Homo sapiens: one gene and its partners. The protein of the gene in region 2 interacts with the protein of the main gene of each other region in a pairwise test. Each region holds a gene or a part of one and is shown on either strand. Other genes may lie near its edges. The genes, in order: TMEM11, ELOVL4, FA2H, TMEM254, CMTM7, FAXDC2 and SYNDIG1.

Region 1 (4,074 bases), on a different chromosome or scaffold from region 2:
GAAGGTTATCTCAAACCACTGCAGAGCATCACCAGCTGCCCCCTAACTGGTAAGGCCATGGGCTTTAGGAACTGGGTGATCTGAACCCTGGTGCATGGGAGATCTTTTTTTTTCCTTTTTTTTTTTTTTTTTAAATTATATGGACTTTTTTTTTTTTTTTTAAGTAAGAGCTAGTTGGAATCTTTTGAGCCCTGGGCTTCCTAAGGGACTGTATTTTTGCTTTTCATTGCAGGTGTGAAATGACCAGTAAGAGAGCAATTAATAGAGTCTATGTTTAAAAAAAAAAAAAAAAAGAAAGAAAAAGTGGCCAGGTGCAGTGGCTCATGCCTGTAATCCCAGCACTTTGGGAGGCCAAGGCAGGCGGATCACCTGAGATCAGGAGTTCGAGACCAGCCTGGCTAACACGGTGAAACCCTGTCTCTGCTACAAATACAAAAATTAGCTGGGTTTGGTGGCACGTGCCTGTAATCCCAGCTACTTGGGAGCCTGAGGCAGAAGAATTGCTTGAACGCAGGAGGCGGAGGTTGCAGTGAGCTGAGATCATGCCATTGCACTCCAGCGTGGGCAACAAGTAAAACTCCGTCTCAATAAAAAAAAAAAAAAAAAAAAAAAAGAGAAAAAGGTAGCAGCAGTAACAGCAAAGTCTCCAACTGAAAGCAAGTTCAGGGGAAAAGGCAGGGTTCAGAAGAGTGTTTACAGTATGCTATACGTAGTGTATTTTTAAAAGTCTCTATTTGCTTTTATATGCACAGAACACTTCTGAAAGGATACACAAAGACCTGATTTTTATGACTGGTCACTAGGGAGGGAACTGAGGGGCTCAGGAAAGAAAAGGAAGGGAGGCTCTTTCTAGTAAATGACTTTTGATCCTTTTGAATCTGGCATGATCTCTGGTACTTAAAGATCACTGTCGGAAGTGGGTCTTAACATATGGAAGAAGAAAAGTAAAAGGATCAGTGTCATGATCCTAAACACATCATGCCAGCACTGAGGAAGCTTTGGATTCTCTGAGCCTTTAGTGCTGGGAGCAGGGGTCAGCCCGTTCCAGCACCTCAGGGGGACTGCTGCAGACACTGAATGGGACCGCTCTCTGCCGCCTCAGGATAGCTTGCAGGCACTCATAAAGTGGGCATCTTGAACTTCCTCCCTCAGCCTTCAACCAGAGTCAGCCTTCAGGCCCTCATCTCTCCACTTTTGAGCCCAACTCAATCAGCTCTCGCAGTCAGCAAAGGAATCCCCTGGCAACACTAGCATTCCAGTTAAAAGGCGGCCACAGTGAAAACTCAGCAGGGCAACTCCACGGCCCCTCTGGGATGTGGGCAGCCTGTGCCTGTCCCAGCAGCCACAGTCTGGAGGCGTCTCCCCAAAAGGCAAGAGCCGCACAAGAAGGTTCAGAGCAGAACTGTTCGGTGAGAGCAAAAGATGACAGGAGCGGGGAGAGCAGAATCGCACCTCCTCCATTAGTGACATGAATCAGTTCCAGTGGCCTGAGCCAGGGATACAACTCTCACACATTCTAAGGCGGCAGAGCTCAGGGACGTGCCACTGAAAGCCAACTATAAGGACAGCAAGGGTGCTGTGGTGCACTTGGGGCACAGGGTCTCCGCTGCAGGAGGAGGCAGGCCAGGGTAACGCTAGTTCTCTATCGCGCTGGGTGGGGAGCCCACACAACTATCACTTTGCCTTTTTTAAAGTGTGGTAAAATACACGTAAAATATACCACCGTAAGCACTTTTAAGTGTACAGTTCAGAGGCACTAAGCACATGCACACTGATGTACCAACCATCACCACCATCCACCTCCAGGATTCCTTTACCTTCCCAAACTGAAACTCTACCCATGAAATGATCCCCCCATTCCCCACCAACCCCAAGCCCCTGCAAACTACCATTCTACTTTCTACCCCAATGAATCTGACTATACAAGTACTTCATACAAGTTGGATCATATATAGTATATGCCCTTTTGTGTCTGGCTTATTCCACAGAGCATAACGAGTCTTCAAGGTTCATCCATATTGTAGCATGTATCCGAATTTTCTTCCTTTTTAAGGCTCAGTAATGTTCCACCGTATGCATAAACCACATTTTGTTAATCCATTCATCTGTGATGGACACTTCGGTTTCCACCACTGGCTATTGTGAATAATGCTGCTATGAACATGGGTGCACAAACATCTCTTTGAGTCCCTGCTTTTTTTGGGGGGGGGGTATATATACCCAGAAGTGGAACTGCTGGATCATATAGCAGTTCAATTTTTTAGTTTTTTTGAGGAATCTCTATACTGTTTTCCAGAGCAGCTGCACCATTGTACATTCCCACCAGCAGCGCACAGGGGTTCCCATTTCTCCATATCCTCACCAACACTTGTTATTTTCCGTTTTCTTTTCTTTTGAGGCAGTCTCGCTCCATTGCCCAGGCTGGAGCGCAATGGCGCTATCTCGACTCACTGCAACCTCCGCCTCCCGGGCTTAAGCGAGTCTCCTGCCTCAGCCTCCCAAATAGCTAGGACTACAGACATGTGCTGCCACGCCCAGCTAATTTTTGTATTTTTAGTAGAGACAGGGTTTTCACCATGGTGGCCAGGCTGGTCTCGAACTCCTAAGTGATCTGCCAGCCTCAGCTTCCCAAAGCACTGGGATTACAAGTAAGAGCCATTGTACCTGGTCTCATTTTCTTTATTTTTATTTGTTTATTTATTTTGTGGAGACGGAGTTTCACTCTTGTCACCCAGACTGCAGTGCAGTGGCACAATCTCGGAGCACTGCAACCTCCACCTCCTGGGTTCAAGCAATTCTCTTGCCTCAGCCTCCCAAGCAGCTGGGATTACAGGCACGTGCCACAACGCCCAGCTAACTTTGTATTTTTAGTAGAGACAGAGTTTCTCTATGTTGGCCAGGCTAGTCTCGAACTCCTGATCTCAGGTGATCCCAAAATGCTGGAATTACAGGCATGAGCCACCATGCCTGGCCTGATTTGTATTTTTTAATGGCAGCTTTACTGAGATAGAATTCACAGCTTTACTGAGATAGAATTCACAGAGCAACTCCCCCATCGGAGGTGAACGATGAAGTGGCTTTCCCAAAGTTGTGCAACCAATAGCACAACTGATCCTGGTGCATTTTCATCATCTCAGAAAGAAACCCTGTACCAATTAGTGGTCCCTTCACATCTCCCCAGCCCTCCACAACCACCAGTCGGCTTCCCAACTCTCTGGATATGCCAATTCTGGGTATTTCATTTAAATGGAATCCTGTAACGTGGTCTTCAACAACTGGCTTCTTTCATTTTGCATTATGTTTTTAAGGGCCATCATGCTGTGGCATGTTTATTACTTTTCACATATTGTAAACATAACTTTTGATGTGTTTAACATATAACTTTAAAAAATCTAAGATAAGGCTGGGCATGGTGGCTCACGCCTGTAATCCCAGCACTTTGGGAGGCTGAGGTGGGCAGATCACCTGAGGTCAGGACTTCAAGACCAGGCTGGCCAATGTGGTGAAACTGTGTCCCTACTAAAAATACAAAAATTAGCTGGGCGTGGTGGTGCATGCCTGTGGTCCCAGCTACTTGAGACTGAGGCAGGAGAATCGCTTGAACCCCGGAGGCAGAAGCTGCAGTAAACCGAGACTGCACCACTGCATTCCAGCCTGGGTGACAAAGTGAGAGTCCGTCTCAATAATATAATTTTAAAAACCCCTAAGGCAAGATATATAAGACAAAGTATCAAAGGTGCTATACATGAAAATAGATCAGGCTAGGCGCGGTGGCTCACGCCTGTAATCCCAGCACTTTGGGAGGCCGAGGCGGGCGGATTACCTAAGGTCAGGAGTTTCAGACCAGCCTGGCCAACATGGTGAAACCCCGTCTCTACTAAAAATACAAAAATTAGCCAGGTGTGGTGACAGGCGCCTGTAATCCCAGCTACTCAGGAGGCTGAGGCAGGAGAATCGCTTGAACCTAGGAGGTAGAGGTTGCAGTGAGCCAAGATCACACCACTGCACTCCAGCCAGGGGGACAAGAGCGAGACATTGTCTCAAAAGAAACAAGAAAATAGATCAACAGTGGTT
Region 2 (4,074 bases):
ACAAGTCATTATAGTATAGTTCACCTTGCTGCTTTCCATTGTCATATTATGATAATTGGCAGCTTAGGAATTCATACATATATTATTGGGGGCCCAGTTTAAAACAATACAGTTAAAGGCAACTTCTGTAATTTTAAAAGAAAATTAGTAAATCTGAACTGACTTAGATCACTTTATGACAAAAATTAATTATTATTACATCTATACCTTGATTAAATTAATATTCTGAAAAGAAAGAATGTCATTGAGTTTGACTGACTGGAATATCTCTGTAGATTTATCTATATTAAATGAATTATTCAATGTGTGTAGTGCTGTCATATTTTAAACTATTTAGAAACCTAAGAAATAAGTACTGTTTTGTTGCAGATATATATATTGGCACATCTAAAGGCAAGAATAGTAGAATTAAAAGTAACATAGGCAACAGTTCTAAGGGCCTATTTAAGCTCACTGGAGTACTCCATTTGAAAACCTACAACTGTGAAAGTCCTTTGCATTTGAACATACATTTTTATTTATATGGTAAAACCTCAAATCTAAACTTTAAAAATATCTAGCTTAATCTGAAGGGAAAACTTTTTCATTAGTACTACTTTATATTTTTCATTTCTAATCTGTACTCAAGATTAAATATTAAAAAATAATGTGTATTCATTTATTGTACATCTCAGTGGCTTACTGCCTAATAAAATTTTCTGTATCTTGTAATTACCTGTTGTTTTTCTAAAGCATTTTTTGGAGCCCAGTTGAATTCCTTTATCCATGTGATTATGTACTCATACTATGGGTTAACTGCATTTGGCCCATGGATTCAGAAATATCTTTGGTGGAAACGATACCTGACTATGTTGCAACTGGTGAGTTAAATGCTTCCAAAGTTTCTTCTGGTAAAATACTGAAATTGTTTAAATTTGATTAATTTTAAAGTGCAATGTCATTTTAGACAATTTTCTATTATGAAATTAACTTTATCCTCCAGCTATATCGCAGTTATGCCCACTTGACTCTAGATGACCTATTCATAGACTTATTGGTCCCAGCAAATCTTTGTTTTTATAATATGCTTAAAAGACTAGACATAGCCCTTACTCCTCTAAGGAAAACATTCTCTAAAGATGTTTGTGGAAAGGATGATTAAAGATCTAAGCACGCTACAAAGTACGTAGTATGAATAGAAAAATAATATGTATTTTTTCCCTACAGGTGATTTTCTTAACTTAAAATTTTATTACCTTTCTTCATCTTGTCCTTGCTTAAAAATTTTGTTTTTTATTTCATTTTTCAGTCTTTAACATATCTCATATATTTAGACTAAACAGCTGAAAAGAAAGCACATAGCCAAGGAAGGGGTGGGGCAAAGGAAGGGAATAAGGGCAAGAGAACTCCTTGTAATTCTCTAAAACACTGTCCTTAAGAGAGCAGAGACAGATATTTTCAAATGGTGGTCTTTAGTCCAGACAGTTTTCAGCACATCCCGCTAGTAAGACTGTTTGTGGCAATCTGAGTGTGTGCATTAGTGTACCTTTCAGATGCTAGGCACTAGCCTGTAATCAAACTGGAAATTCAAAGCCAACCTGGTAACTATTTTTCAAGCTTTAGAATTTATTATAATTTGCTTTAATCATAGCATGTGCACAATTTTATCAGTGGAATCACATTTGGAAATAATATTCATCTTTGCTTTAAGTTGCTAAACAGCTGGCTAACCAAACAGGAAGCACAACTTTTGGGAAATGCTGGGTGCGAAGGATTCATTTGTAACCGGAGTGGTATAGGAAGCTTCCTCCAGTTTTTGTGTAAAAGCTGTTAACACAGTTTGTGTAATTCATTTCTCTCAGTAAGTAGTAAATGGACCTAAGAAAATGAAGAGGTGATCAAAATCATGTGAATTAGTCCTATCTGGTTTGTTGGAGCCTACACCTGGCTCTCCTTGAGTGATGCCATACCCAATCACACCCTTATACACACCCTTTTTGGTGATGCAGCTTCTAAAAACCATTGTGAAACCACAAGTTCTTCAAATTAAAATATTTGCCAAGGAAAATTATAAAAGTTTAATATAGTATAAATTTTTAGCTTACATGGCATACATTATTTTAATATTTAAAATAAGTAATACTGATTATTTTAATCAATAATTAATATTTTAAGAACAATGCTATCCTTAAAAGAGAAACCACAATTGTCCATTTCAAACAGGATGTTGAGTTTGTATTTCCAAGCCAGAAGTTCCCACAACAGTTAGTCATATAAGTTAATTGTATAAAAAGTTAACCCTTGTTAACATTATGTCTTGACCCATTCTTTTATTGATACATCAGAATCTATTTCATTTTAATCATCTCACTTTGGGCTTTTTTCCTTTTAAAAATTCTTAAAGTTGAAAGTGATTCTTTTTGTATTTATTCTGAAATATCTACTAAATTTTATCCAAATATTATTTTTTTCTTTTTTTGGGACGGAGTTTTGCTCTTGTTGCCCAAGTTGGAGTGCAATGGTGCAGTCTGGGCTCACTGTAACTTCCGCCTCCTGGGTTCAAGCTATTCTTCTGCTTCAGCCTCCTGAGTAGCTGGGATTACAGTCATGGACCACCACACCTGGCTAATTTTTTGTATTTTTAGTAGAAATGGGGTTTTACCATGTTGGCCAGGCTGGTCTTGAACTCCTGACCTCAGTTGATCCACCCGCCTCGGCCTCCCAGAGTGCTGGGATTGCAGGCATGAGCCATCGCACCTGGCCATCAAAATATTAGTTTTTAAAGGATAGTGTTCGTTCAAATAAAAATTTACCTGCCTACTATCTGTAAGAAATAAATGAGCCATTTTGATAAGCTCATTTTAAGTATGTGTATCTGCTTGCTGACAATTTGATAGAAAGAAACCAATGTAAAATGTGGGAGGAAAACAAAATTGAAGAGCCTACAATACTATTACTTTACTCTCCTAGGCCATTGATTCCCTTTCATCAGATAACATTATTCAACACATATTCATTGATCCTGATGCTGTGCTGAGGACTCAAGAATCACCGATGGGCAAGACAAAGCCCTGCCTTCTAGAGTCATTTTCTAGTGGAAAGATAGGCAATAAAGAAATAACAAATACAGAAGACAATTTCAAATAGGTATAATTCTCCTTAAAAAAAATGCAGAAAGCTCTTTGGTTAATGGGATTGGGAGGGCCAATTGAAATTGAAGTCTTGTCAGAGAGTCCTTACTGAGGAGATGGCATTTGAGTTGTGAATGAGGAGCTAGCCATGGGAGCCAGAAAACAATAAATTTTGCACAGTGTGGCAAAATTTGGGCCTGTGATAGCTATGTAGAAGATGCCGATGTTGTTAAAAGTTGTTTACTATTCAGATTAAATGTTTTGTGCTGTCATTTCTGTTTTTCAGATTCAATTCCATGTGACCATTGGGCACACGGCACTGTCTCTTTACACTGACTGCCCCTTCCCCAAATGGATGCACTGGGCTCTAATTGCCTATGCAATCAGCTTCATATTTCTCTTTCTTAACTTCTACATTCGGACATACAAAGAGCCTAAGAAACCAAAAGCTGGAAAAACAGCCATGAATGGTATTTCAGCAAATGGTGTGAGCAAATCAGAAAAACAACTCATGATAGAAAATGGAAAAAAGCAGAAAAATGGAAAAGCAAAAGGAGATTAAATTGAACTGGGCCTTAACTGTTGTTGACAGTGAGGAAAAACTCCCATATCATATAAAATTTCAGGGAAAACAGAAGCAAAGGAGAGCTTGGGGGTGGGGAGAAAAGACAAATGTGCTCTATGTCCTAGTAACTCTTAGACTGAGTAAAGTGTTAATACCATACCCAGATGTTTTATTTATGAAGTTTTTATTTTAAACATTTTTTTTAAAAATTAGCCTTGATATTCTCCAGACCAAAGCAATCATTAAGTGACTTTGGGGATTCTCCCCCTGTTCACATCCAGTTGTCTAAAGGATGAGATTTTTCATGTATCTTATAGTCACTCATTCTTCGGTCTGAATTTTAGACGATCACAGAAACGGTCTTTATGAATTATTTTGATAAATTACTAATTATCTTAT
Region 3 (4,074 bases), on a different chromosome or scaffold from region 2:
GAGCAGGAAACATAACTAATGGGTACTAGACTTAACACCTGGGTGACAAAATAATCTGTACTACAAACCCCCATGACATGAGTTTACCTATTTAACAAACCTGCACATGTATTGCTGAACTTAGAAGTTTAAAAAAAAAAAAAGAATAGGAGCAATTAGAGAAGATTGAGAACCACTGTTCTGAGTCTATGTGCTTTAGAGAATTTTGCATGAAAAGACACCAGAAAGAGTAAACAGGACTAGAAACCCAGGCAACCTGGGACATACCTATGAGTGTCACCCAGGTACTTATAGCTACATGAGGACTGGGGGGGTCTTAACCCTGAGAGCAATGTGGGTCTTGATTGAGATTTTCTATGGTTAACTTCACTTCTAACCCCTGAAGGAGACTCATGGGACGGGTAGACTGTAAGAGCCTGCTAAGGGAGAGGTTTTGCTAACTCTCTCCGGCTGCAAAGAACCGAGGACAAAGGCAGAAATGAGTGACTTGCTTGATGGTTCTCCATCCTTTCCATCAACTCCCAACCTTTTAACAAGACACAGAAAAGAGATTTTTCTTAATCTTTTTTTTTTTTTTGATACAAAGTCTCGCTCTTGTCCCCCAGGCTGGAGTGCAATGGCGCGATCTTGGCTCACTGCAACCTCCGCCTCCTGGGTTCAAGCGACTCTCCTGCCTCAGCCTCCCAAGTAGCTGGGATTATAGGCATGCGCCACCACACCTGGCTAATTTTTGTATTTTTAGTAGAGACGAGGTTTCACCATGTTGGCCAGGCTGGTCTCGGACTCCTGACCTCAGGTAATCCGCCTGCCTTGGCCTCCCAAAGTGCTGGGATTACAGGCATGAGCCACCGTGCCCGGCTATGTTTCATTCTTAAAGTATCTTGCATATGCTAATATTTCCTTTTCAATTATGCACGTACCTCAGTTTTCCAAGCAACTCATTCATCCACTTATTCAAACATTTATTTATTCATTCATTCATTTTTTTGAGACAGGGTCTCACTCTGCTGCCCAGACTGGAGTACAAATGGTGCAGTCACGGCTCACTGCAGCCTTGACCTCCTGGGCTCAAGCAATCTCCCAAATAGCTGGGACTACAGACACATGACCACGCCTGGCTATGTTGGAAAATTTTTTTGTAGACCTAAGGTCTCACTATGCTGCCCAGGCTGGCCTTGAACTCCTGGTCTCAAGCTCTCTTTCTGCCTTGGCCTCCCAAAGTGCTGTGATTACAGGTATGAGCCCATACCCAGAGCATTCAAATATTTATTAGTACCTATTGGTATGTACCAGTGGTGCCTGTGTGTGCTAGAGAAATCCAGGTGAACTAGACAAGTCCAGTCCTTGGGGAGTTTACAGATTAGTAGACAAAACAATAGGGAAGACAAGAGCCACAGTGGAAATATGTTAAATAAGAAAGAATGTTATCTGCTGGGTGTGGTGGCTCACACCTGTGATCCCAGCACTTTGGGAGGCCGAGGCAGGTGAGGTCAGGAGTTCAAGATCAGCCTGGCAAACATGGTGAAACCCTGTCTCTAGTAAAAATACAAAAATTAGCTGGGCATAGTGGTGGGCACCTGTAATCCCAGCTACTCGGGATGCTGAGGCAGGAGAATCACTTGAACCTGGGAGGCAGAGGTTACAGTGAGCTGAGATCGTGCCACTGCACTCTAGCCTGGGGCCGGGGGAACACAGCAAGACTCTGTCTCAATAAAAAAAAAAAAAAGTTATGAATGCTGTAAGATAGGTTCAGGTAAAGAGCTATGAGAGTCTGAGTGAAGGGGAAAAAAGCAGATATAGGTGAGGAGGTAAGGAGAATCTCTGTGGAAGAAAGAGGATTCAAGCTGGACTTAAGGGATATGGCAATAGGGAGCCATTGAATACTTAGGAGCCCTGCCATAACATGATCAAGTTCTCTTCAGAAAGGTTCAGAGACAATGGGGAACAGAGGAAGACCTGCCCAAGAGACTGCGACAATAGTGAGTGTAGCGAGGCTCTAGCCAAACTAGGGCAGAAGTGAGGGGAATGTTCCAGAAGGAAAACTAAGGGGGGGGGCTCCTGAAGATCAACAGGTGGTCCAAGCCATTGGCTCTTCTTGCTCCAGTTACTCCCCATTTTCTCCCTCTGCCTATGGATTCTCTAGGACAGAGTAGCCAATGGAAACGATTACTGTGAAGAGTAAGAAAAACATCAATAATACCCCAGACATAATACTGAGTGAAAGCAGCCATCAACAGAGTGCATGATGCCCATATAAACATGAGGGATTCACAAAACTATCCTATGGGGATAGAGATTAGAACAGTGGCTGCCTCTGGGAGGCGCTGTTGCCTGGGAGGAGGCAGGAGCCTGTGCTAGGTGCTGGAAGAGTTCTAGGTCTCGATCTGGGTGGTGGCAACAGAGATGTTTACCTAGGTTAAAAAAAAAAAATTGGCCGGGCATGGTGGCTCACGCCTGTAATCCCAACACTTTGGGAGGCTGAGGCAGGCAAATCGCGAGGTTAAGAGATCAAGATCATCCTGGCCAACATAGTGAAACCCCGTCTCTACTAAAAATACAAAAATTAGCTGGGCGTGGTGGTGTGTGCCTGTAATCCCAGCTACTTGGGAGGCCGAGGCAGGAGAATTGCTTGAACCTGGGAGGCGGAGGTTGCAGTGAGCCGAGATTGTGCCATTGCACTCTAGCCTGGTGACAGAGGGAGACTCATAAAAAAAAAAATCACTGAGCTGTATGTTTAAACTTTGTGCACCTTTCTGGGAAATGAGAAGTGAGAGAAACTAACAATGGAGACTGAGAAGTCACAACCGGGGTCTGGATGGTGTGTGAGCCACAATCTGTGAATATGCTACCTGACTTTTCAAAAGGGACTCTGCAGATGTCATTAAGTGAAAGATCTTGAGATGAGATTATCCTGGATCATCTAGGTGGGTCCAGTGTGACCCCGAGTGTACTTCTAAGTGGAAGATGGATGTAGGAGCATCAGTCGTAGGAGGAGACGCAGCAACAGAGGCAGAGGCTGGCATGATGAGATTGCTGGCTGGGCCAAGAGCCAAGGAATGCAGGCAGCCTCCAGTAGCTGGAAAAGGCAGGAAAAAAGAATCTCCCCTAGAGCATCCAGAAGGAATGCTTCCCTGCAGATTCATTTTTTACTTTGGAACTGTAAGAGAGTAAATGTGTGTTGCTTTAAGCCACCGAGTTTGTGATAATTTGCCAGAGAAGCAATCAAAAATGAATTCAGGTGGAAAACTAAAAGGGTATGGCATCCAGCAGCCAGGTGAAGAAAGTGTACTGGAGGGGAGGAAGGGTGATCAATGGTGTCACCAGTTGCTGCCAGGCCATGCAAGGTAAGGTGAGCACTGACCACCGGGTGGAGGAAGGCGAAGGTCCTGGTAACGCCAGCAAGGGCTGTTTCTGTGATGTGGTGGGTTTCAGAGCGCATGGGATGCTTATCACCTGTCTAAATAAATGAAGACTACATACAGACCAATGAGGAGCATGTGTCATAAGAAAAAAAATAAGCGAAGATGATGAATGCTGTTGCCGAAGCATCAGTCTGGGTTATTTCCCGGGAATACTTCCAAAGACAATTACTCTCATGTATTTCTAGGAATCCTGTTTGTTTCTTTTTATTTCCTCCAGAGAATCCTAATTTTTGACCCTCTTCCCAATTCTGGGTCTCAAAGCCTCTTTATTCACTGAATTGTGGGGTGACACCAGAGAGCACTCCTGGAGCTTGTGCTGACCCTGGGGTGGCCATGGAACTGCAGTGACCTGGGCCCTGGATGCCCCACCAGCTGGCCCTAGCTTCGTCCTCCAGGTGAGACTCGACTGGCACCACAGCAGGCCAGAGTGTAGAAGCCCCTGCAGGTGGTAGAGGGCAGTGACTGTTGATTGCTCAGGCAGGCTCCCCTGGGATGCCCCCTTAGAGGCCAAGTGATCTCAACCCCTCCAGTAAGTCGACTTCTCGGCTCTACTCTGCTCAGAAGGTGGCGGCAGTTCAGCAAATTCCCCAAGCATCAGTTTTTATCAGACCGGCTTTCCAAGATGGGCTGAGCTCAAGATGTTCCCGGTCCT
Region 4 (4,074 bases), on a different chromosome or scaffold from region 2:
AAGGGTGCAGTGAGCCGTGATCAGGCCACTGCACTCAAGCCTGGGTGACAAAGCGAGATCCCTTCTCTACAAAGAAAACAAAAGAAGAAAAGGAAGAAAAAAAGACTTTAAGAGTCATCCACCGTGGGCACTGAGTCTGATAACCACATACTTTCCTCAGCATAAGTCTCCCAGTAGAGTTGCTTTTAGAAAATAGAAGTCATCCTGGCACAGTAGGTCATGCCTGTAATCCCAGCACTTTGGGAGGCCAAGATTGGAGAATTGCTTGAGCCCTGGAGTTGGAAACCATCCTGGGCAACATAGTGAGACCCCATCTCTATATACAATTTTTAAAAGTAGCTGGGCATGGTGGCACACACGTGTAGTCCCATCTACTTGGGAGGCTGAGGTGGGAGGATGGATTGAGCCCAGATGGTGGAGGCTGCAGTGAGTCATGATCATGCCACTGCACTCCAGCCCCAGCAGCGGAGTGAGACCCTGTCAAAAAAAAAAGAAAGAAAGAAAATAGAAGCCAAGAATGGAGACCCAAATGACTGTTCAGAGTTTCTTCGGTCTGTGGTAATTTTTTTACTGTTTCACAGCCTTTCTCAAAAACAAAAACAAAAAACAGGTTTTAAGTGACCTAATAGGTATTCTGTGTCTCTGCTTCTCTTTCAGTGGGTTGTCTTCTGGCCTCAGAGTATCCCTTATCAGAACCTTGGGCCCCTGGGCCCCTTCACTCAGTACTTGGTGGACCACCATCACACCCTCCTGTGCAATGGGTAAGGAGAGCTGCACAAGTGGACTGTGGACACTGGAGCTCTGGTCTCATGGGAAACCTGGAAGGCCTGCAGCTGCCTTTTGGTATCTAAGAGTAGTGTCGGTTCACCTTAAGGCACTTTTCTTTTTGAGATTGCTGTGTTAGATTTCATCAGCAGATAACTATCACCTTAAAAAAGATTAACCTTTTTTTTGGTTTCAGGTATTGGCTTGCCTGGCTGATTCATGTGGGAGAGTCCTTGTATGCCATAGTATTGTGCAAGTAAGTCTTTGAAGTAGGTGTTTGTTGCCTTTCTCTTAGTAGCTAATATAAATTGAGAGCAGCCACATTTAAATAGTTCACACACTTGTAGGCTGAGAATATTCTCAGGGTAGAGCGGAATCCCCATGCCTGATACTGAGCCTGGAGCAGAGGCAGTACCCAGTAAATGTTTGATGAATGCATTCATTTTGTTTATGTTGGTTAACCAATTACTTAGTTATCTAATTCAGATGACTTTTGTTATTTTTTAACAAATTTTCTGGGTAGCCCCAACTAGATCAAAAGACTAGGAATAGGAGCCTGGCTTCTAGTTTACAAAAGAGCTAAGTGACTGACCTAGGCCGATGACTCACAATCCTCGTTTTACAATTGAGCCACCTGAGGAGCTTTTTCAAAATACACACGTCTGGTTTCCAGACCCAGAGATTCTGATTGGGTAAGTCTTGCCTCAGAGATAGGAATGTGCTCTTTTTAAAAGCTCCACAGATAATTCTAGGATGCAATGCTAGTTAAAAGCCCCCAAACCAGACCCCACTCAGGAGATGCTAGTATAGGTTAATGCTATGTGAGAATACAAGAAAAAATTATGTTTGTACTTTATATAAGCATATACAGAAAGTATGGTACAATGAAAAACATGGTTATGGAAATGCCAAATTGCTTCTTTCCAATTAATTTCTGGTCAAGATAATAATTAATTGAATTAATTTCTGGTCAAGATATACTATCACCTCTATTATTTTTCTATTCTAAAAGTGGAAAATAAGATACTGTATTGCTATTACTATGTTTCAATAATAAAAATAATATTGATTGGGTACTGCTATGTCAGAGACTGCTAAGTATGTTAAATAGAATGATCTTACTCTGTTTTCTTGTTTATTAAACAAATAAGCTAGACTTTTTTTTTTTTTTTTTTTGAGAGGGAATCTTGCTTTGTCACCCAGGCTGGAGTGCAGTGGCGCAATCTTGGCTCCCTGCAATCTCTACGTCCTGGGTTAAAACGATTCTGCCTCAGCTTCCCCAGTAGCTAGGATTACAGAAGCCCACCACCATGCCTGGCTAATTTTTGTATTTTTATTAGAGACGGGGTTTCACCATGTTGGCCATGCTAGTCCCGAACTCCTGACCTCTCAGGTGATCCGCCTGCCTTCGCCTCCCAAAGTGCTGGGATTATAGGCATGAGCCACTGTGCCTGGCCACAAGCTAGACTTTCTATGAAGAGGAGCAGAAAGTAACTTTATTCTTTCTTTCTCACCCCTCTCCAAGTAAATTTGTTTTGTAGATCGTTCCCCACCTTCCACCGTATCTCTGGATGGAATTTCAAACAGATCGTAGGATTTCCAGTCACCATCTGATATTATCTATTCTAGCCCAGTCTATTGTTAAAACTATAAACTTTCTTCTAATTCAAAATGTCTGTTTTCATCCAGCTGGGGCTCAGGAGCCTGCAGTGGGGAGAAGGGTGCAGTTGATATCTTCTCTTGCACTTCACCTTCTCCTCTATTCACTAATAATCGCTGCTTGTGGTCCCTTGGGATAGTGGGAATAGTTAGGGAGAACAAGGCTCAGCCTTAAATAGCTGCTGCTGGCCAGGTGCAGTGGCTTACACCTATAATCCTAGCACTTTAGGAGGCCAAGGTGGGCAGATCATTTGAGACCAGGAGTTTGAAACCATCCTGGCCAACATGACAAAACCCCATCTCTACTAAAAATACAAAAAATACTAAAAAAGCCAGGCATGGTGGTGCGTGCCTGCAGTCCCAGCTGCTCAGGAGGCTGAGGCACGAGAATCGCTTGAATCCGGGAGGCAGAGGCTGCAGTGAGCCGAGATCGCACCACTGCACTCTAGCCTGGGTGACAGAGCAAGACCCTTTCTCAAAAAAAATAAAAGTTAAAAAAAAACAATAAACAGCTGCTGCCTTGTGATCAGGCAGCTAGGTACTGTGTATATTGCATATCCAGTATTGGCTCTTTCTCTCTAGAGGGGATGTGGTAGATTTTTGAGACACTACTCATCACCAGGGATCTCCCTTCTGCAGTTTCCTTGATGGTTCATTCAGACACCCCCTCCAGCATGCCACTTGCAGTTTCACCCTCAGAGTCTGTGTTCTAGGGAGAATTACCCTTTTATTGAGATCACTTCCGTCCTTCAGGTGGGTCTGTGGTACAGGGTCCCTTTTAAACCTACTCATGTTCAGTGCCTTCTCCAGGATCTGTATGGCTCACAGTAAACAACTTCCGTATCCCTCCAGTGGGATAATCTACAAGTGCATGCAGTTATCAGTGTGGCGGTGCTTCCTTCTCTCCCAGCAAGCAGACCAAACAGTGTTTACTCTTTGGAATCAGATATTAAACCCTTCCCCAAATTCCAGAGACTCATGTCAAGCTCTACAAATGGTTCTGTTGAGGCCATTCTCTGGGCTTGACTTGTGGGAAATGCCACAGCCCACTAGGACCTCTTTCCAATGGCCTCTGCAGCATCGCAGTAGAATCTCAGATTGGAAGTGTCCGGTCCAGCCCCTCAACTTGGAATGTAGGAGTGCGTGACACCTATTTTGTTGTTGGCATTTGGAGTATCTGATGAAAACCAAAATACAAAAATTTTTATTTTTATTTTTATTTATTTTTTTCTTTTTTGAGACGGAGTTTCGCTCTGTCGCCAGGCTGGAGTGCAGTGGTGCAATCTCAGCTCACTGCAACCTCTGCCTCCCTGGTTCAAGCGATTGTCTGGCCTCAGCCTCCCAAGTAGCTGAGATTACAGGCGCCCGCCACCAAGCCTACTTTTTGTATTTTTAGTAGAGACAGAGTTTCACCATGTTGGCCAGGATGGTCTTGATCTCTTGACCTCGTAATCCGCCCACCTCGGTTTCCCAAAGTGCTGGGATTACAGACGTGAGCCACCGCACCCGGCCCTCAAATTTAATATACAATTTTTTTGAAGGGCAGAGGGAGAACAGGCATAGAGGTTAGGTTACTCTTATGTTCTTGAAATCATTTATGGTCTAACATGTTAGAATGTATCATTAGTCACTATGAATCAGAATAAATAT
Region 5 (4,074 bases), on a different chromosome or scaffold from region 2:
AGCTAAGGGTAGGATTTTCAACAAGGTTTGGTTTTCTTTTCAAGCCCAGATGCTGCTTTACATAAACAGCTGCCCCCACCAGCCCACATCCACTTCTTCCCCGGGTTTCTTTTCCTGGGCTCCTTTTGTACCAATTGTCTACAGCACATAATTAGCCTATTAGAGCCTGTCCCGGCCTCTCATTGTCTGTTCTGCACAATTAGCACGTTATATACCATCCCGGTCCCCAACTGTCTGCACTGCATAATTGAACAGTTTATTATATCGCTACAGAATGCTATTCTAGACTACAACGCCTTGTTTACTAATTGTTTCATGTGTCTTGTCTCCTAAGCTAGATGACCACTTTCTTATAAGCAGGGACCATATTTTAAAAATTTCTTCTAACTTCCTCATAGCCCAGGTTTGGTCCTAGGCACACAGACAGCATATGATGAATGTTAGCTATAGAGATTCCAGGGCTAAACAGTTATGTGCAACCTGAATTACTAAACACAGTGGGAATCTCCTCAAGTGGGCCCGGAAACACAGTGGGCACAGGTCTCCTGTGTGCCTCTTCCAGTACCCTGCACTGTAGCTGGGCAGGTGTTAAGCTTCAGGGGGCAACCATCCCTCTCTTCAGAGACAGCAGAGAGAGGGGGCAGAGAGGTGTGATGGTGGGCTGTGGGAGGGCCATGTGGAGCATCAGTGTTGGGAGGTTTGGCCACCCTCTACAGTGACCTTCTGCCCCCATGCTGACCTTCAGAGGAGAGACTCCATCCCTCAGTGGAATTCCAGGAGCCAACCCACTCCCAGGCCAAAGTCTGGAAAATTTTGGTAATATACGTAAGTGAAAGACAATGAATGTCACATACAGAGAGAGCTTTTCTTTTTCTCTTTTTCTTTTTTTAAGACACAGGGTCTCAGTACGTTGCCCAGGCCAGACCGAACTCCTGGGCACAAGCATTCCTGCCGAGTGCCTGGGACTACAGGTGCATGCTAGCTACCACATCTGGCTTGAGAGAGCTTTTCTCAAAACTCATTTTTAAAATCTTGTCTGCTCATCAGTGAAGCAAATCAGTGTTGGCCCACAGGCCACTGAACTATAAATAGTTAGCTAAATCAGAAATCAGATGACAGGAATCTATGAATCTTTAAAAAAATAGCATATACATCTGTATGTATATACATATATATGTATGTATATATCTCACAGGACTGTATTTTTGTATATTTCCATCTACTTCTATTTATGGCTATCAGATGGATCAATTTTTGCCTCTGAAAGATACAGGAGTATTATTTCCTGGCCTGAATACTGTTAAAAATCAGGAATGGCAAAGCTCAGGCTCATGGCATGTATCTCTAATTGATCACAGTACATTTCCCACTGGGCCCAAAAGAGGCTCCAGCATCTGTCTCTGCATAGTGCTGAGGCAGCCAACGAGCAAATGATCAGAGTGGGTGTGTGAATTAAAACCCGCCTGGCCCCCTGATTTCAGTAGTGCCTGTAAGAGAGAGAGGCCTGGGCTGCTGGGGTCTATGAATTTGCTGGCAGCCCTGACAATCCACCTTCTGGGACTGTACGCCTCTGCTTAAGGCTCTTTGGAGAGAGCTGATGGCTGGATCAAGGTAGGTATTGATTCTATGAAGGGAATGCCCCAGAAACCAAGCCCTTCTCTTCCCCCATCAGGAAGAAAATGAGCATTTTAAATAAGAATTCATTCCTAAAGGCTCCCCAAAACATCCTCACCGCTCCGGCTACCAGTCCGCTCTGGTTGTAACTCTTGGAAGCTGCCACAATGGAGGCGATGAGGAGGAGCAGGGTACCGATTAAATAGTGCAGAAGTTCCTGGGGGCAGAAACAAAGCAAATAAGTGGGTAGGGCCGTCCATTTCTGGTCCGGGAAGAGCAACTGGGCATCAGAAGACATGAAAAGAAAGGGAGAGAGTGACGCTTCCTCTTCTCCCTTGCAACACGCAAATGGGATGAGCAGAGCCGCTCGCAGGCAGCCAACATGCGGGCTGACCAGGAAGAGGCCAAGCAAGACAGAAGTGATGCCGGGCAGGCAGGAAGGGAAGAGGACAGAGAGAAAGGAAGCTTCTGGTGTGAGCAGAGATAGCCACTAAGGACTCCTCTACTCCTGAGAGCAATCTGTGGACAGTGCCTTAACCTCTGGCTAAAGCTACTAAAAAGCAAACGAGCTTCTTGCAACTTCCCGGCTGGAGAGTTTAAACAAAGCTCCAGCTCGGAGAAGCAAAGTACCTTAAAGAGATATTTGCCTTTCTCTTCTGCTTCGGAGAAAGTTCTGGGCTAACAATGTGCTGGTCTTGTGTGACTGATGGGAGTGTCAGCCCACTCTGTGAATGGCCCCAAGTGTGGACTTGAGAGGTATTCATTCCCAGGGTCCCGTCAGACTCAGACTCTAGAATGAGGTCAGTGGCACTTCTGTGAAGTGCCTGTGGATGTGTGGTGGCAGCTGGCTTTCTCACTCCTGAGCCTTCCTGCCTTTTTTTTTTTTTTTCCTGTCATTCCCTCTTCTCTTTTCTCCAGAAGAGTGCCCTCCCGGCCAAGCTCTGCCAATGAATCCACTGGCAGGACTGGTTCCACCTTTGCTTCTCGCCTTGGCCCATGGGCCATGCATTTCCACCCCACTCACTCATCATGATTAATCAGCATCCTTGCAGGCCCTGGATGAGATGGGCCTTTCAGTGGCGAGGGAAAGCTTCCATCTCACCCTTTCTCTTCCCCATTAAACATCAGATCCGAGAAGAACTGAGGCTGGGGGCCACTTCCAGTGCTTGCTCTGAATCCAGGGTGCATCCATTTTCAGTTGTCTTCAATGAGAATCTAGAAATCATTCCTTCATGAAGTTCTGCCCCTTAGGGCAGGCAGCTATTAAATTTTGGAAAAGCATTCCAATTTAAAGCTGTAGCTCCTCTCAAAGCTATGTAAAATCAAAGACCCTGGTTTCTCCCTTAGTGACTAGAAAGGAATATCACAAGATAGATCACAGAGATTTTAACTGAAGAACAGATGAGTAACTGCAAGTTCCCCACCTCCAAGATTCTCAACTATTAAGACAGAGGAGGATGACATGGGGCAGAGAAAACCAACTTGAGAGAATCCTAACCGGAAGTACTTAAATAGTATCTCAGCCAAAAATGTGTGGCTGAGTCTGTCCTTCCAACTTTCACTCCTCATGCAGCCCACTCTTGTGCTTGTCCCTGAGCTTTTGTTCTCTCCTTTGCTTGTTCAGTATCTGCATCAGGTAAGCCCCAGAGGAATTTGTTCTCAAAAGAAGCAGAAAAAAATGCCATAACTTTGAAAGGGGCCTTAGAACTTAGAAACACAAAAGAAATTTCTCTCAAAATAACAGTGGGTAATAGTGTTAAGTGTGAACAATTAAACAATCTAATCAAGATGCAGAGGTGGTCAGATTGGATTAAAAAACCAAAGCAAAACGAGAAATAACTACAGTATGTGCTGTCTATGGGAGAGAGACTTTATATTCAAAGATAAGGAAATGGCACGCAAACAACAACCAAAAGAAAGCCAGGGTGTCTACACTGCATCAGACAAAATAGAATCGAACACAAAAAAAAGTTACTAGAAATAAAGAGGGACATTTTATAACAATGAAAAGCTGAATCCGTAAGTAAGATATAACAATTATAAACGTATATGCACCTAATAAAAGAGCCAAAACACATGAAGTGAAAAATGAGAAAAATGAAGGAGAAAAACAGACAATTCAAAAATAATAGTTGGAGAATTCAATATCCCTACTTTCAGCAATGTATAGAACAACCAGGTAGAAGGTCAACAAGGAAATAGAAGATTCAAACAACACCATAAAATGACTAGACCTAAAAATCCTCTATAAAAACTCTATCCAGCAAAAGTATAATATACAAATATACAATGTATAAAAGTACATTCTTCTCAGATGTACACAGAACATTGTCCAGGATAGACGATATATCAGACCATAAAACAAACTTCAATAAAGGTAAGAAGGACTACAAAATATGTTCTCTGAACACAATGGAATCAAATTAGAAATCAAGAGCAGAGGGAAATCAGGGAAATATA
Region 6 (4,074 bases), on a different chromosome or scaffold from region 2:
TCAGGAAGGGGCCCACTTCAAAGGAGTGGGTCAAGAGCACTGTTTGCCTTTCTGGAGTGCTGGGCTGGGGCAAAAGGACCTGAGAGCTGAGGTGGTTCACCCAGACACCTGGGCAGATGACTAAAAGATGATTGTCTTGTCTGGGAAAGAAGCCAGGATGTGGTTTGGGTGGAGCTGGGTAAAGAACCTGGGTTTCAGAATCAACTTCTTCCTTGTTGTGTAGGAAAAGGCGAGCCAGACTCAGGGAACAGTGGGACCCACTTCCCGGCGCTGTGCAAGTCAGAGTTCCTTGTAAGCAGGGTCTGGGCCTCACTTATCATGGATTTGCCCTGGTGCCTTTCACTATTGGTCGAATTGAGTATTTCGGAAGGAGAACTTGTTTAAAAGACAGCCACCGCCCACACATTCAGAATCCATACTATCCGTCTATTACAGTGGAGTTATCCATTGTTTTCGCAGCTGTCTCCCTCTCTCATAACAACAGCTGTTACCCATATTCTAGCATCCACCCATTGCTGTCTCCATTCCTATGGGTAAAGTGGAGTTGCCTGCCTTCTCAGTGCCAGGCTGACCACAGTGCCATGGGGCACCACAGGCAGGTCCAGAGCCTGGGCCAGGAATCAAGAGACCAGAACACTGGTCTTGACTGGCCACTAGCTGAGTGACTCTGAGGTTGTGGGCAAATTATTTCCTCTCTTTAACCTTCTAAACTGGGGGAGCCTTGTTGCTAATAACTTGGCTCACACTGGCCAGGTCTCTCCTGGGCCAGTGGTGAGAATTCTGAGAGTGTGGCTTTGGCTCTTGCTTTCTGTGCTTTGACCAGAAGTTGCAACAACACTTACAGGTTCATTCTTGCCGACCTGAATTCGGTAGCGAGAGATGAAGTTAGGTTTTCCTGTTGTGTCAACCACCAATAGAAGCCCATTGAAGCTCCAGAAGAAGAGACAAGGCACTTGGATGGCACCTGAGATTGGGAAACAGAAACAGTCAGGGCGACTTTGGGTTCTCACAGCACATAGACTAACAGAACATACTTTTTTGTGGTGACTGAGGCTTCATCCTAGACATTTCTTTGCCAGGGAGGTCTTAGGGCTTGGGACCAAGGGGTTACCTGTAGTCTTGGGTAGGAACTTGGACAGGCCATTTAAGGAGTGTCTCCATTTTCTTAGCCATAAAATAGGGACAACCTTCAAGGTGGTTGGTGGTTTTCATATAAATACATATGAAAGTATGTTAAGATATATAATACCCTCTAAAATAGAAATGAATTCAGGTTGACATTTGGGAGTCTGCGCCCACTGAACCCTTTATGAATTGCCAAGGAAGGAGAAGCAAAGGAAGTACTCTGTATGGTATGGGTCACAGTGAGCCCTGGGCTAGGAGTCAGTCAGGAAACTTAATCCCTGTCATCCTACTAACTGAGCAGCAGAACTTCAGGTGTCATCTAGTCAGTATAAGTGGAAAACTCATCGTTGTTTTTTTTTTGTTGTTTGTTTGTTTGTTTTTTTGAGACAAAGCCTCTCTCTGTCATCCAGGCTGGAAGTGCAGTTGTGTGATCATGGCTCACTGTAGCCTCGACCTGCCAAGCCGAAGTGATCCTCTTGCTTCAGCCTCCTGAATAGTTGGGGCTACCGGCACCTGCCACCATGCCCAGCTAGGACTCGGCTTTGCTTAATTCCATGTCTGTGCCCCTCCACCAGCACCCTTCATGCTCCATCAACCGAAGTAACTGTGGCGGCTGGGACTTGGAAAATACTTGCCAGCACTGTAGGGGAGTAGGATTGGTACAAACCTTCTAGAGGGCAATTTGGCAGTAACTGAAGTAATAAAGTGAGAGAGTCAGAGAGCCAAGACAGAAAGGGAGAAAGAAGAAAAGGACACACGTCTGTTTGTATGCATAAATGTCCGTCACAGCATTAAAAAAAAAATTTAAGCAGCCTAAATACCCATTAGTAGGGAAGGGACTAAACAGATTAGAGTATTTCCATATAATGGAATAGAATGGGAAGCTTAGAGTATTAAGTAAGGCTACATTAATAGGCATGGAAAGATACCTACAATCTATTCAATGAAAAAAAGATTTAAAAATAGTTGGTATCTCATAAGTACAACTATATACCCAATATATAAAAGATGCACACTAATATATAAACAGTGGTTATTTCTTGAAGGTAAGACAGTGGGTGATTTTCACACTTTCTATGCTTATTTGAATTGCCTGATTTTTATTTTTAACAATGAGCACATATTTACTTTTGTTTTTTTTTTTTTTTGAGACAGAGTCTTGCTCTGTCACCCAGGCTGGAGTGCAGTGGCGTGAGCTCAGCTCGCTGCAAGATCTGCCTCCCGGGTTCACGCCATTCTCCTGCCTCAGCCTCCTGAGTAGCTGGGACTACTGGCGCCCGCCACCGCGCCCGACTAATTTTTTGTATTTTTAGTAGAGACGGGGTTTCACCATGGTCTCGATCTCCTGACCTCATGATCCGCCTGCCTCGGCCTCCCAAAGTGCTGGGATTACAGGCGTGAGCCACTGCGCCTGGCCCATATTTACTTTTATACCCAGAAAAAATAAACTATTTTTTACTTTGGAAAAAAAAGGCTGATGGTTACCCAGTGGGCCATCCAAGGTGTCTACCTACTTGGAACTTCAAAGGCTGCCTGAGGAATACAGATGAAAAGCACACCGTAAGACGATCTTAAACTTCTTCTAGCTCTAACACTTAAAATTGGAAATATTTTCTCTCTCTCATATTGGCTTATCACCAAGGTAATAGGTAATTTTCACAGGATTGTACCTAACATATATAAAATATTTGAGGTTTTTTTAGATTGCAGGTTCAAGCTAATAAAGTTTTTCTACCACCTTCTCCATATACATAGGTAATCTGCATTGTTCAATGACTGCTTAAGATCCCATTAAATCTGTCATATTTAATGTTCAGCCCATTGTCAGAGTCCTCCTTCTAGTTGAAAACAATCCTCAGGTGCATTTTGCTTTATAGCAACTGACACTTTTTATCTTCCCTTCTAGACTATGACATCATTTTTTAATGGGGGAGGGAAACATTTCATTTAAATACTTCTTTTTTTTTTTTTGAGACAGGGTCTTGCTCTGTCACCCAGGCTGGAGTGCAGTGGTGCTATCTCAGCTCACTGCAACCTCCACCTCCTGAGTTCAAGCGATGCTTGTGCCTCAGCCTCCTGAGTAGCTGGGATTACAGGCACGCACCACCACGCCTGGCTCATTTTTTGTACTTTTAGTAGAGACAGGTTTCACTATGTTGGCCAGGCTGGTCTTGAATTCCTGGCCTCAAGTGATCTGCCTGCCTCAGCCTCCCAAAGTGCTGGGATTACAGGTGTGAGCCACTAATCTTGGCCTATCTTAATTTTTGTTTTTTTTTTTTTGAGACAGAGTCGTGCCCTATTGCCCAGGCTGGAGTGCAGTGGCACCATCTCGGCTCACTGCAACCTCTGCCTCCCAGGTTCAAGCAATTCTCATGCCTCAGCCTCCTGAGTAGTTGAGATTACAGGCACGCACCACCACACCCAGCTAATTTGTGTGTGTGTGTGTTTTTAGTGAAAAAGGGATTTTGCCATATTGGCCAGGCTGGTCTCGAACCCCTGACTTCAAGTGATCCACCTGCCTTGGCCTCCCAAAGTGTTGGGATTACAGGCGTGAGCCACTGTGCCCAGCCCCATCTTAAATATTTCTTTCTTTCTTTTTTTTTTGAGACGAAGTTTCACACTGTCGCCCAGCTGGAGTGCAGTGTCATGATCTTGGCTCACTGCAACCCGCCTCCCAGGTTCAAGTGATTCTCCCTGCCTCAGCCTCCCAAGTAGCTGGGATTACAGGAGCCTGCCACCATGCCCAGCTAATTTTTTTGTATTTTTAGTAGAAACGAGGCTTCACTATGTTGGCCAGGTTGGTCTCAAACTCCTGACCTCGTGATCCACCTGCCTCAGCCTCCCAAGGTGCTAGGATTACAGGCGTCAGCCACCACGCCTGGCCTCCCATCTTAAATATTTCTATATCCTCGATACAAGTGTAGCACATAGTAACATTATATATTATAT
Region 7 (4,074 bases), on a different chromosome or scaffold from region 2:
AGGGGAGGATCACCTTCCCACTCCAGTATCCTTCCCGGCTCCACATCCATCCCACTGAAAACCACCTCTACCACTCAAAAAAACTTCACATTCATCCTTCAAGCCCGTATGTGACCTGATTTTTCCAGGATGCTGGGCAACAGCTCTGGATCCAGCCCTCTGTCCTTGCGAAAAGGCAAAGGGCCCATTGAGCCTGTTAGTATTCAAGCCGTCTGTGGACAGCAAAGCTGAAAGAGCTTTGTAACAGTGGGGTTGCAGTCACCCACCCCTAGACACTACTGCAAGGCCAGAGCATAAAGCACTCGCCCCAGCCTCTGCACCTGCCCTTCTGCATGCTCCAGTCCTGCAAGGGGTTTGAGCAGCAACAGAACAGGTGAACCACACCCACCCCACGTCCTGCAAGGGGAATCAGGGAACTCTCCCATTTCAACACCACAGGATACTATTCAGCCATAAAAAAATAATGAAATTATGTCATTTGCAGCAAATATGGATGAAACTGGAGGACATTATGTTAAATGAAATAAGTCAGGAGGGAAAGTTAAGCATTGCATGTTCCACTCGTGGAAGCTAAAAGGAGTTAATTTTATAGAAGTAAAAGTAGAAGGAAGAATAGTAGAGAGTGGGCAGAGTAGGAGGAAGGGAGAGATAGGAAGAGATGTATTAAAACATACAAAATTACAGCTAGATATGAATAACTTCCAGTGTTCTACAGCACTGTAGCATGAAAACAGTTGAAAAATAATATATTATGCAGTTTCAAATAGCTAAGAGGAGGTTATTGAATGCTCCCAACACAAAGCAATGATCAAAGTTTGAGATAATGAATATGCTAATTACCCTGATCTGATCACCATATGTTACATGTATCAAAACATCACTATATACCCCATGAATATGAATATCCCATTTATTTGTCTATTAAAAAATAAAATTAAATAAAAAATAAAATAAAAAACCTCTTCAACAAAGTAGTGACAAAGGGAACTTCCTATACCTGATTATGAGTGTCTACAAAGAACTACAAAAACATCACCTTTCATCATGAAAGCTAAAAGCTCCCCCTAAGATCAGGAGCAAGGCAAGGATGTTCGTTCACTCACACTAAACAATGTATTTGAGGTTCTGGCCAGTGCTATGAGGTAAACAAACAAATGAGCAAAACAAAACCCCCAAATTTCCTTCCACCCAAATCAGCAGCACCTCAAATCTCTCTGGAGATACTAAAAATAATTTTCAAAATGCTGTTTATTATTTTCTGAACTCTTTCTCTTTCCTCTGGGTCAACTGTTCTATTTGTTGTTGTTCTGTCTCATTCATGCTTTTGGGTTTTCTTCACATGTGTGTTGAGTCCTCGCCCCTCTTTCCATACTTATGACTGAGGTATATGTAAAGTGCTCTATTGCAGTTATAGAATTCTGTGTCCTCCAACAGCTTTCAAGTTTTTACATGGGAAGACAGACTGGAAGGCCTTGGAAAGCTTGGCGGAGAGTTCACAGAAGTGAAGTCCTGGTGCCGTCTCTTCCTGCTTTGTCCTTGGACTCTGGCATAATGCTGAAACAGAAGTTTACTGGAACACATTTTTCCCCCTAATGTAGAAAGAACAGCATCATCATGAGGAGACAGAGTCTAAAGTCAGGAGATCTGTCTCAGATCCAAGGGCTGACAGCAGAGCCACGTGTGTGATCTTGGAAACACCCCAAGTTTCTGTCTCTCCACGTGTAGGATGAGGACAGCACCATGACCCATCCCCAAGCGCTTCGAGGATTCGATGGCCAAGTGCACTTGGAGGGCGTGGCAGAAAAGGTGCTCCATCGATGAGCGTTCCCTTCCCCCTTCTTCCTTCAGTGAAGAAAAGGCTCAGCCCCCATGGGCACCGCTTCTAGGTGGTGACCGTCATGTACTTCAGGTCTGAGAGGTTTTGCATTGCCACAGGTAAGTGCCATTCAACATCTGGTCACCATCTCTAAGGGCAGGAGGGTGGTCAGGCCTCTGCACCTGGACTCCATCCACTTCATTTCATGGCTGTAAACTCAAATTGTATATTTTGTAGACCTACTTCATTACTTGTCCCTGAAGTCTCTCTGAGTTTATTTGTGTGAAAGGAGAAGTGGCTTCCCACTGCTGGTATTCCCAGAGACAGCAGTTTTTAGCTACTGGCTGGGAAGTGGATGAAGCAGTGTTCACATACCTGGGAAGAGGCCTGGGCTGTCGGACATCAGGCCCAATTATCACTACCCAGGATGCCCTGAGGGCACCCCCACAGGATGCCTGTCTTGTCACCCTGAGCGCAGTGGCACTAGATAATGAGCGGCATGGCACCTCTGCACTCCCGCAAAGCCCCAGAGGTCCCCTACATCTACCTGTCTAATGTCAAGCCATGCTCTACTTGGCGACTTAAGGTGGAGCAGGACAGATCATAAACACTTGCCGAATAGTTGAGAACCTCCCATAAATATTCTCAAAGTTAGCCATAGAACCTGTTCTTGTTACTACCACAACCTCGAAGGCAAACTGAACGCTCCACATGCCCTTGCAAACATATGTCAGACAGGCCGACCTCTTCGGACCTGGAGAGGCTCCTTCATAAATGCCAGGGATGCACCTGTCTTGGGAAAGTGATTGGGGAAAACACAGCCAGCCACCCAGTGCCCAGGAGCTCCAGCAAGGGAGCCCCGCTCAGAACCAGGGAAACGAGGGGCCCTGCTCTGAACCAGGGCAATGAGGGGGCCCTGCTCTGACCCAGGACAATGAGAAGGCCCCACTCTGAACCAGGGCAATGGGAGGGGCCCTGAACAAGGGCAATGAGGTGGCCCCCTCTGAACAAGGGCAATGAGGGGGCCCCATTCTGAACCAGGGCAATGGCTTTTTGAAAACGGCATTATTTGGGAAACAGTATCCATTTGCTATAAACCAAGTGAAGCTATACAATACTCAAAGAAGTTAAAAATCACATTTTTTTTTCTTTTTTGGCTGAGTAGAACTGCCTTCTGGAAAGAGCTCAGATCAGTATTCACTGTTCTTTTGTTTCAGTAGTTGTCATTCTGTTCAGTTAGACCATCTGAAAAAAAAAATGATGCCAAAAGTCTATGGTTTTTGGCTCTGTGGTTGCAGTACTGGCACCCAATTTGTTATCACTTCCCTATATTGTGACCCTAAGCAGTCTCTCCCACACTGACTGAGCTTGGCTGTGGGACCTGCTCTGGTCAATGAGATAGTAACATGCAGGACACAGGCAAAGACTTGACAAGCCCTCACAAAGTGGGCCCCACCTCTCTGGCTGCCGCAAAATGAAGCCTGGGACAGGATGGGTGACAGCTGGGTGATGCAGTTACCTCTGTCACTGCAGCCAACAGCCCACCAGAGGCTGGCTTCCCAGCCTATCACAGCTAGCTATGGACAAGTGAGTGAGCCCAGGTGAGACCAGCAGAACAATCACCCAGCTGAGCCCAGCTCAATTGCCGACCCTCAGAAATCATAAGCTGAAGAAAGAGTTGTTAAGGCACTGTGTTTTGGGGGTGATTTGTTATGCAGCAAATGCTAACCAATACATGACCCTTTATTATTTAATGGAATGGAGAAAACAGTAAACCAAAGAACAGCTACTGCATGTTCAATGACACTTCTAACCAGTCATTAGTATTTTGTTAATTACCGAAGAAGGGAATGAAAAGCACCATAGCTATACTGTAAGAATGTTTCTGAGAAAATCTTTGTTTTCAGAGAAAAAGGACGAAGTTAACCACCGTGGTGAGGCTCTGAAATCCTCCTTGGCATCCTGAGCCGCATGTAGAAGCAGCAGCAGCCATAATGTGTCTCCATTCCTTCTGCTCAGAGCCTGTGGAAGGGGCCATTTCTTGGTCCAGGTGAGCTCCTTGGAAGCCGACCAGAAAGTCTCACTAAAGTGCCTAAGTAAACAACTTGCTGTTTCATCGATGTTACTTTAGTATAAATGCCAACATGCTCCATCTTACGTTATATTCAAAAGTCACTAGAAATATTAATACAGAGTAGGCACCGTTATTATGACTAAAGATTCTTATTGCTGTATTATTAAAAGAATTGTTTCTGGTG

Evidence for each region.
Region 1: the proteins of ELOVL4 (region 2) and TMEM11 interact in binary tests that used the Homo sapiens proteins (3 or more experiments, as listed by UniProt).
Region 3: the proteins of ELOVL4 (region 2) and FA2H interact in binary tests that used the Homo sapiens proteins (3 or more experiments, as listed by UniProt).
Region 4: the proteins of ELOVL4 (region 2) and TMEM254 interact in binary tests that used the Homo sapiens proteins (3 or more experiments, as listed by UniProt).
Region 5: the proteins of ELOVL4 (region 2) and CMTM7 interact in binary tests that used the Homo sapiens proteins (3 or more experiments, as listed by UniProt).
Region 6: the proteins of ELOVL4 (region 2) and FAXDC2 interact in binary tests that used the Homo sapiens proteins (3 or more experiments, as listed by UniProt).
Region 7: the proteins of ELOVL4 (region 2) and SYNDIG1 interact in binary tests that used the Homo sapiens proteins (3 or more experiments, as listed by UniProt).

What each region holds. Positions count from the first base shown.
Region 1 is NC_000017.11:21,203,847-21,207,920, forward strand, and holds part of TMEM11 (transmembrane protein 11, mitochondrial), read right to left. Parts: intron 1-4,074. UniProt on the Homo sapiens protein: Plays a role in mitochondrial morphogenesis.
Region 2 is NC_000006.12:79,916,206-79,920,279, reverse strand, and holds part of ELOVL4 (very long chain fatty acid elongase 4), read left to right. Parts: intron 1-732; coding exon 733-860; intron 861-3,396; coding exon 3,397-3,672; 3' UTR 3,673-4,074. UniProt on the Homo sapiens protein: Catalyzes the first and rate-limiting reaction of the four reactions that constitute the long-chain fatty acids elongation cycle.
Region 3 is NC_000016.10:74,764,597-74,768,670, forward strand, and holds part of FA2H (fatty acid 2-hydroxylase), read right to left. Parts: intron 1-4,074. UniProt on the Homo sapiens protein: Catalyzes the hydroxylation of free fatty acids at the C-2 position to produce 2-hydroxy fatty acids, which are building blocks of sphingolipids and glycosphingolipids common in neural tissue and epidermis.
Region 4 is NC_000010.11:80,081,184-80,085,257, forward strand, and holds part of TMEM254 (transmembrane protein 254), read left to right. Parts: intron 1-456; coding exon of another isoform or gene 457-558; intron 559-657; coding exon 658-761; intron 762-961; coding exon 962-1,021; coding exon of another isoform or gene 1,022-1,025; exon of another isoform or gene 1,026-1,034; intron 1,035-4,074.
Region 5 is NC_000003.12:32,447,211-32,451,284, reverse strand, and holds part of CMTM7 (CKLF-like MARVEL transmembrane domain-containing protein 7), read right to left. Parts: intron 1,832-4,074; coding exon 1,733-1,831; intron 1-1,732.
Region 6 is NC_000005.10:154,829,959-154,834,032, forward strand, and holds part of FAXDC2 (fatty acid hydroxylase domain-containing protein 2), read right to left. Parts: intron 965-4,074; coding exon 843-964; intron 1-842. UniProt on the Homo sapiens protein: Promotes megakaryocyte differentiation by enhancing ERK phosphorylation and up-regulating RUNX1 expression.
Region 7 is NC_000020.11:24,545,786-24,549,859, reverse strand, and holds part of SYNDIG1 (synapse differentiation-inducing gene protein 1), read right to left. Parts: intron 3,992-4,074; coding exon of another isoform or gene 3,989-3,991; exon of another isoform or gene 1,231-3,988; intron 1-1,230. UniProt on the Homo sapiens protein: May regulate AMPA receptor content at nascent synapses, and have a role in postsynaptic development and maturation.